Linked DNA regions of Homo sapiens: region 1 is linked to region 2. The links come from fine-mapping of genetic effects on gene expression. A gene starts in region 2. The other region holds a variant in brackets. All regions are shown on one strand. Distances are from middle to middle. Region 1 has its middle 31 kb from the start of MMP13. Region 2 holds the start of MMP1 (matrix metallopeptidase 1).

What was found.
Region 1: its variant is fine-mapped to the expression of MMP1 in whole blood (TOPMed, PIP above 0.99).

The regions. Positions count from the first base shown.
Region 1 is chr11:102,922,780-102,927,176 of GRCh38, forward strand. No RefSeq gene overlaps it. Among named protein-coding and RNA genes, the nearest start is that of MMP13, 31 kb to the right of the region's middle. The variant A/G (reference allele first, on the strand shown) is at 2,131.
Region 2 is chr11:102,795,576-102,799,972 of GRCh38, forward strand. It overlaps MMP1 (matrix metallopeptidase 1), which reads right to left and starts at 2,585. Exons shown (of 10, transcript NM_002421.4): 1 at 2,413-2,585; 2 at 1,681-1,925; 3 at 1,439-1,587; 4 at 1,089-1,214; 5 at 1-32. The coding sequence starts at 2,517. It also overlaps the pseudogene WTAPP1.

The sequences.
Region 1 (4,397 bases), 130 kb after region 2:
TCATGTGATCTGAGGCAGACAATTTTAAACTTGATCCCCCCCCAACCCCACCATCCATGTACACATATTGCCGCACTCTCAGCCTTGTCTGTACTGATTCTGTGGGCCAATGCAGCTTGTGCCTCCTTCTCCCATAATGCCATTCACTCAAAGGGGGAGCAAAATTTCAAAAACCTTCTTATGATACCAAATTTAAAAAGTGTTTTTTTTTAATGTGTAAGACACTCTATAAAGTATGGGGCCCAGTCTGGGGGTCCTTGCCTTGCTCCAAGGATGGCATGGCTGTGAGCCTGCAGAGCTTCCACCGATCTTCCTCATATTTACAAGCATCCTCACCATGAACTTCCACTTTCCAGGTAACCCGGGGTTTCCCTGTGCCCAGCACTCAAAAATACCTAACTCCAGGACACTAGATCATGAGAAGAGAGACAAATCTCTCTACCTCTCTCCTACTCATTTTATTATATATACATGTATGTATACATTAAGCTTACACAGATATGTACAAATACACATATATGAATATACTTTTCATGATCCCCACCATACACTGAGTTTCCAGTGAGAATACAGAAAAGATAATAGGCAATTTTAAGGCCAAAAAAAAAAAAGGGTTGGGGGAGGCCATGCCCCTAACTCAAACCTGGAGCCAGGGAATACTTCTGAGATGAAGTGACATTTAAAATGAGACTTAAAGGTTGAAGAGGGAGTTAGCTGGGATGGGAAGAATGTCCTATACTAAGGCCAGAAAGGATAGAGAGCATCACATCTTCAAGGAACTGAAAGAATGACTGAAGCTGAGGTTGCAATGGGGTGGGGAGGTATGGAGGTGGGGGAGAGGAGAATGCGGGGCCACAGAGTGAGAGGCAGATGGGGTGCATGGCATCAGGACAGGTGGATGTTTATAAGCCATTCTGAAGAGTCTCAATTGAATTCTGAAAGCCAAGTAGAACCATTGATGGGTTTTATTTTACTTATTTATTTTGAGATGGAGTCTTACTCTGTCCTGCCCAGGCTGGCATGCAGTGGTGCGATCTCGGCTCACTGCAACCTCTGCCTGTCAGGTTCAAGCAGTTCTCCTGTCTCAACCTCCCGAGTAGCTGGCACTACAGGCGTGGGTCACCATGCCCGGCTAATTTTGTATTTTTAGTAGAGACGGGGTTTCACCATGTTGGCCAGGCTGGTCTCGAACTCCTGACCTCAGGTGATCCACTCGCCTTGGCCTCCCAAAGTGCTGGGATTACCGGCATTAGCCACTGACCCCAGCCATTGATGGGTTTTAAACAAGGGAGTGACATGTTGTTCAATAAGGAGGAAGTTACTAGATCCTTTTTTCTCTTTCCTGAAAAAATGATTAAGACTACTAGGTGACTTTGGCCTCTGGTGTATGTTTGCACTTTTGTCTAATGGGGAACTAATTTGGAATTATTTTTGATTAGTAATAAAGGAAAACAATAGATCTGTCCTAAGTATAGAGTAAGAGAAAATGATATTTTGACCCCATGTAGATAATGTTCTAAATAAAATGAACTGATGAAAAACAACTTCTTGAAAACAACAATATTTTAACATTCCATATTTCCTTTTTTTCATGTGTTTTGAGTCATCTATATAAATTTGTACTGAAAAACTTTATGCATTTCTTATCTGATTGATTGGTTCTTTCTACCTAGAAGGCGATTCTTTCTTGTTCAAACCCAGCCCAGATACTCGCACACTGCATAGGGATGGAGGAACAGTTTCTGTTTGCTTTTGGTCAATCATGAACTCCTACGTATCTTGTAAACATGTGAGATGTAACTTCAGGTATACTGGAGAATGAAAAGATCCATCCAGGTCTCAAAGACTTATGATCTAATTAGATCACAGGCAGAGGAGATAAAAAGACAGAGATGCTCGAGAGGTTAACAAAGCAGCTTTGAAGCAGATGTGAAATAACATCTCGAGCAAACTGGGAGTTAGAATTAGCATGTCTCAGTGTGTGTTTATCAGCAAAAGCTGCTAAAAAGTGCTGCAGAAAATGAAAAGGAAGGAATGAAGATTTTATTTCCCTATTATCCAAAGAGCCTGAAGGCAGATGGAAGTTATGGTCAGAACGTGGGTTAAATGAGTCACAGTGTGGAGGAAGCC[A/G]CAAATTTCCATGTAACCCACTCCCATCCCTCAAGTGTCGTCTTTTCCAAATGTGGGTAACCCTGCCATGGGATACGCCCTCAGCTGAGATCCCCTGGATGGGACCCAGAAAGGGGAACAACCATCATTCTTTGTTGTAAAGTCAGTGCACAGAGCATTGCCACCTGAGCCACAAAAGCCTTCAGATGCCATTCATTTCAGCTCAGTTTTGCCCATGCTGTCTTTTGTCCCTCCTGAGGCCTGCATTCTAGGAACACAAGTGACTCACATGAGATCTCCTTGAAGCAAATTTGTCCTTGCAGTGCTCACGTCCAGCAGTAGCCTAAAAATCCTGACAGTTTTACTTCTCTGGCGGCTAGAGGCGGAAAGTCACATTCTAAGAATATGAAGATTGAGGAAGTGAAGCAAGCTCAAATTGCCTCCAGGCCCCTCAGCAGGATCAAGGTGGTGGAGAGCTCCATTAACTTCAACCGGCAAAAGTAGTGGCGGCCTGAGAGAGCCTTAACCTTCATGTGAGCTATAACTTTATTTAAAACTTGTTAGTTTTACTTACATTTTGATCTGTTCTACGTGTTAGAGTAAAAATAACCATGTTCTCTCAGTCTACAAAAGGTCCTCATAGGCAGTCTCTTTTATTTTATTTTATTTTATTTTTATTTATTTATTTGAGACAGAGTCTTGCTCTGTTTCCCAGGCTGGAGTGCAGCTGCCCAATCTCCACTCACTGCACCCTCCGCCTCCCAGGTTCAAGTGATTCTCGTGCCTCAGCCTCCCAAATAGCTGGGATTACAGGCACGTACAACTACACCTGGCTAAATTTTGTATTTTCAGTAGAGACAGAGTTTCACCCTGTTGCCCAAGTTGGTCTTGAACTCCTGGCCTCAGGTAATCTGCCCGCTTTGGTCTCCCAAAGTGCTGGGATTACAGGCGTGAGCCACTGCACCCAGGCAGTCTCATTTATTTTCAACAATCTGGATGTCTCTTTGTCCATGGTCAGTGGGGTTCACTTGACCATGTACTTTGGGGTTTTTCACACTGAGGATCATAATTTTCTTTCAGGCTTTCTTTCCTCAGTGATTTCTCTGCTATTTTGCTACTTCTCCTTAGCTTTTCTCTGAGTCTTCGCTAAATCTGTTAAGTTGTAGATATGTGCAGGACTACAAGAAGTATTAAAAGAGTTTTTGAACAAGCAAGGAAAACACTCTTATTAGAAATATATATCAGTCATCTCATATACTGTGGAGTCAGTACATCAGAGTGGTTAAGAACATGAACTTTGGGATCACACAAAAGTCCACACCCTGATTCTATTTCTTACTGGCTGTGTTTCAAAGAAAACTCTTAACCTCTTCAAGCCATGGTTTTTTCTCCTATAAAGTGAGCTTAATAATAGAATTACTATATCTGTCTGTTGAGAAGATCAGATGATACAGACATAACACACTCAGCATAGTGCATGGCGCGTTGTGTGTGTTCCACAAATGTTAGCCATTAGTAATAAGACTGTAATTATTGAGGAATCAAAGAAAAGTAAAGAATGGATCCTTCTCTCAAGGGGAAAATGTTTTACTTGCCTCCACTAAGGTGGAGAAAAAGACAATTCTGCAAATAATCATAAAATATGAAGGGTATGTACTGCAAATCTGTTTTGCTTTGTTTGCCAGCAGAATATTCTCTGTCTTTTAGTAAAAGCACCCAACTTCTGTTCTGAGGACCTTTCCCTTCCTTGTCCCCCAGGGTCATTGTGCTATGGGCTGTAAGTCTAGTCAGCCCTATACTGCCCCACCAAGAGTGGCTGATGGCCTTCAGCCAAGAGAACACAGCTCTCTCTTCCTGGAGTTTCCCTCTTGGGTAGACTAGTATAAGATGGAAGCAGGAGAGCAGAATCATCTCAGTGGAGTGCCAGAGGAAGTCTGGGTTCCTGCTCCAATATATCAGGACTCTGTTGGATCCTGTCCTTCCTGATATATAGGAGTTGAGCTTTACTTTCAATTCTGTGAACTCCCCAGCATCCTTAGCTAGAATTCAGTTCTACTACTTGCATTCAAAGAGCCCCAAAAGATACAAAATGGAATTAAAACCAAAATAGAAGAGTTAAGTGCTGTGTTTAGAAGGCAGATGACATTGGTCTAGTGTGACAAAGGGTGACTTTGTGGAGAAAGTAGCGTATACAACATGTGTCCATCCATACGGGTCAGCTACTCTCTATCTCCATTTCCGCTTCTGTTCTTGCTGGCAAAGAACTCCCTCTGCTCCCGTCTCTGCGT
Region 2 (4,397 bases):
TTCATGAGCTGCAACACGATGTAAGTTGTACTCTAAAAAGGCCAATAAATCAATTTGTAATTATTTGAAAGGTATTCAGTTTTGAGGCATTTAACTAATAAATAATTTACAACTACAAGGACTCATGTTACTATTTTATCAGTGACTTTTGAAATATATGCATGTATATCTTTTTTCCGAAGGCAGAAGGCATGCATTTATTAATAACGAAGAGACATGTTGAAACCTAAACTCTATGATTACATTGATACAATTAAAAGACAAACTCAGCTGACTGAAAGCGCACCACAGATTAATCAATATTATCAATGATTAAATGACACGTACTATTTCACACAGAAGCAAAATGTTCTATTAACATTTAATATTTTTCTTTTTCTTTTTTTCTTTCTTGAGACGGAGTCTTGCTCTGTCACCCAGGCTGGAGGGCAGTGGCATGATCTTGGCTCACTGCAACCTCTGCCTCCTGGGTTCAGGCGGTTCTCCTGCCTCAGCCTCCTGAGTAGCTGAGATTACAGACGTGTGCCACCATGCCTGTCTAATTTTTATATTTTTAGAAGAGACAGGGTTTCACCATATTGGTCAGGCTGGTGTCAAACTCCTGACGTTGTGATCTGCCTGCCTTGGCCTCCCAAAGTGCTGGGATTACAGGCATGAGCCACTGCGCCCAGCCTAATATTTAATATTTTTCTTATTTACAAAACTGATAAATGTTGACTGCTGGAAATTTTGGAAAACACAAAAAGCCTTCCTTTTCTTTAATTTCCACATAAGTTTATGACCGCTGTTAAATTTCACTGTTTTCTTCTAATGAAAAAGTTTCAATGTTGATGCCCACAATTAAAACATCAAAGTTTTCAACAATTTTCTTAATAAAAATTTTAGAGTGGCCTAGTTGTCACTGCTAAGATGTTGTTAGCTAGCAGAAAAGACCGCTCTTTCACTTTTCTAAGTGTATCACTAATTTTCTGAGTGGTAATAGAAAAATATATACTTCTATGAATGCATTCTTTCAACTAAATCAACCAATATTACAATGAAACATGAAGGGGTGGGAGAATTGAGAGAGGCAAATTTGATTGGCTTACCTCTGAAATTGTTGGTCCACCTTTCATCTTCATCAAAATGAGCATCCCCTCCAATACCTGGGCCTGGTTGAAAAGCATGAGCAAGATTTCCTCCAGGTCCATCAAAAGGAGAGTTGTCCCGATGATCTGAAAGAAACAATTCAACAAAGATTCCTTGTGGTTCTTATGTAAGCTAAGCCAGAAGGGCAAGCATTAGCTTTGTTAAGAGGCCAACAGACTTCCATCAACTGTGATGCAGTTTCCCTCTTCGAGCCCATAAAATCAACATTCATCTTAAACAATCAATTCCAGTTGCAAAGCTACGAGATCTAGGGGCAAGGTGAGGTTAAGGTGCTATAAGAAGAACTTACCTCCCCTGACAAAAGATATCATGATGTCTGCTTGACCCTCAGAGACCTTGGTGAATGTCAGAGGTGTGACATTACTCCAGAGTTGGAAGGCTTTCTCAATGGCATGGTCCACATCTGCTCTTGGCAAATCTGGCGTGTAATTTTCAATCCTTAGAATGAAACAAAATAGAGACACATTGGACATGACTTCTTACCACTGTCATGGGAAATAGCTCTCTCACTCTGGCCCTCAGTCTGCCTACCTGTAGGTCAGATGTGTTTGCTCCCAGCGAGGGTTCCCCTCAGTGAGGACAAACTGAGCCACATCAGGCACTCCACATCTGGGCTGCTTCATCACCTTCAGGGTTTCAGCATCTGGTTTCCCAGTCACTTTCAGCCCAAAGAATTCCTGCATTTGCTTCAATTTTTCAACCACTGGGCCACTATTTCTCCGCTTTTCAACTTGCCTCCCATCATTCTTCAGGTTGTAGTATTTTTCCAGGTATTTCTGACAAAAGAAAATTATCGAAACACTGCATGGGAAATCTTTCTCATTATTCTAAAAATTGATGGCATTAAGTTTTAGCCAAAACAGAGAACTGCTTTTAAACCTTGTGTTTAGATTTCGCAGTTGCTTTTATCCTTATTTTTGGTGAGAAATGAAATTTCAGAGTAGAAATGTCCCTACTATTAGTTATTGTGAAGTAAGAACTTCATAGTAGAGCAATTTTTGTAGAGCAAGATTTGCATACTGTTACAAGTCTACAATTTGTGGAGACAAGTTTGGATGTTGTTCCTTTAGTTCACTCTCACCTCCAACTGGAAAAAGAGAGCGTATGCATGGCTAGATACATTTTGGGTGGAGGGTGCTGTTTCTAGCAAAAAAAAAAAAAATCTCTTTATAAGAAACCTATCCTTAAAAAACTCTATTACATTACTGCAGAAAAATACAAACTAAAAATTTACATTATTGTCACATGCAATGCAGCATTTACCTGGACTAAGTCCACATCTTGCTCTTGTGTTTCTAGAGTCGCTGGGAAGCTGTGAGACACCACACCCCAGAACAGCAGCAGCAGCAGTGGAGGAAAGCTGTGCATACTGGCCTTTGTCTTCTTTCTCAGTGCAAGGTAAGTGATGGCTTCCCAGCCTCTTGCTGCTCCAATATCCCAGCTAGGAAGCTCCCTCTGTATATATAGAGTCCTTGCCCTTCCAGAAAGCCAGAGGCTGTCTGACTCATGCTTTATAACATCCTCTTGATTAGCTATGAATAGACTAGGCAATCATTAGAAATGGTGACTCCTAGCAGATTATTTGGAATCACTTGGTGTTGCAATGTCATGATTAACTTCAAACAAGATGTGTGCGAAGGAGACACACTCTGCCATGTAAACAGTGGTTTTCTCCAATTCATTTCTTTCCTATTTGAGAAAGGTTCTTGTTATATACACAGGTCAAAGAGTACTCCATGGTCTTTTTGAAAAAGACTGGTTCTGATGGTCATAAAGTGCTACAGGTTTCTCCACACACCTTGCTCCCAGGGCAGAGGGTGGAATTACTAACACTGCGCACCTGATGGCTGTTCGGCACCTGTACTGACTGAAGTTCAGCTCCCCCAGCACTCACTTTACGGTGGCTCTTCGGGGTTCTCTGAGGTTCCCTTCTGCCTTTGTTAAGCTGCCTGGTACCCTATTGCGATAGCACCATGGCTTCCCTTAATCTTTACTCAGAGCCAGGCATGGTGGCTCAAGCCTATAATCCCAGAATTTCAGGAGGCCGAGGCAGGGGAATCACTTGAGCCCAGGAGTTCAAGATCAGCCTGGGCAACATGGTGAGACCCCATCTCTGTAAAAAACAAACAAACAAACAAACATTTTTTAAAGTTAGCCAAGCATGGAGTCATGCACCTGTAGTCCTAGTCACTGAAGAGGCTGAGGTGGGAGGATCACTTGGGCCTGGGAGGTTGAGGCTGCATTGAGCTGTGATTGTGCCGCTGCACTCCAGCCTAGGCAACAGAGAGGGACCCTGTCTAAAATAAAATTTGAAAAAATTTACTCAGGCCTAGGATTTAAGAGCCTTACCTGAGAAGACCCCTCATCCACAGGCGGAGTATGAGATAACTCCCCACCCCTTGCCCATCATTATCATGGGACAAATAGGATCCTTCCCTGAAACTTGTCTGAATGTACCGGATGATGAAAAGGCTGGAAAGAGACTGAGCGTGACTCTGGGGTCTTATTTTTAATCATACTTGTTTCCCTTGATATGAGTCTATCTTCGCTCCTTGGTGCTAGGCAGCATTTATTTATTCTTTCATGTATGCATTCATTCATATATTTATGCATTCCTCCATTCAAAAGATCTTATTTAGCATCTCCTGCCCATTAAAATAAATACATGGCTCTGTAATGAAAGATGTGTATTCCTGTACTTATGTTCCACATTAAATTGTCTTGGGTACTGGTGACCGGTGTCACCAGTGCTATCTGTAGCATTCCTGGTAAGAAAAGTTGGTTTATCTCTGTAGCTCCCCTACTCATGCCCCACTCTCCTTCCTTGGAAGCATTTATTGAAAACATACAGTGGAGAAACACTGGCCTGTTTTATCACTTCAGCACCTTATGGTGTCTCCCACCTTTCCCACTGTATCAGGTTTGCTTTTCAACACTTTCCTCCCCTTATGGATTCCTGTTTTCTTTCTGCGTCAAGACTGATATCTTACTCATAAACAATACTTCAGTATATCTTGGATTGATTTGAGATAAGTCATATCCTTTCTAATTATTTAACTACAATTTCCTCATCTAAGTGGCATAACATGTGAGTTCAAGAGGGTAAGAAGAATGGGAAGACATTCTCACGAAAAGGAAATCCTCTTCTCAGAGGCATCAGAGGGAGGGTGCGGCAGAGACCAAAGAACACTTGCCACTGAAGTGACTCCAGCACAGACAAAGAAAATAGTGAAAGGGGCTCTTCATAT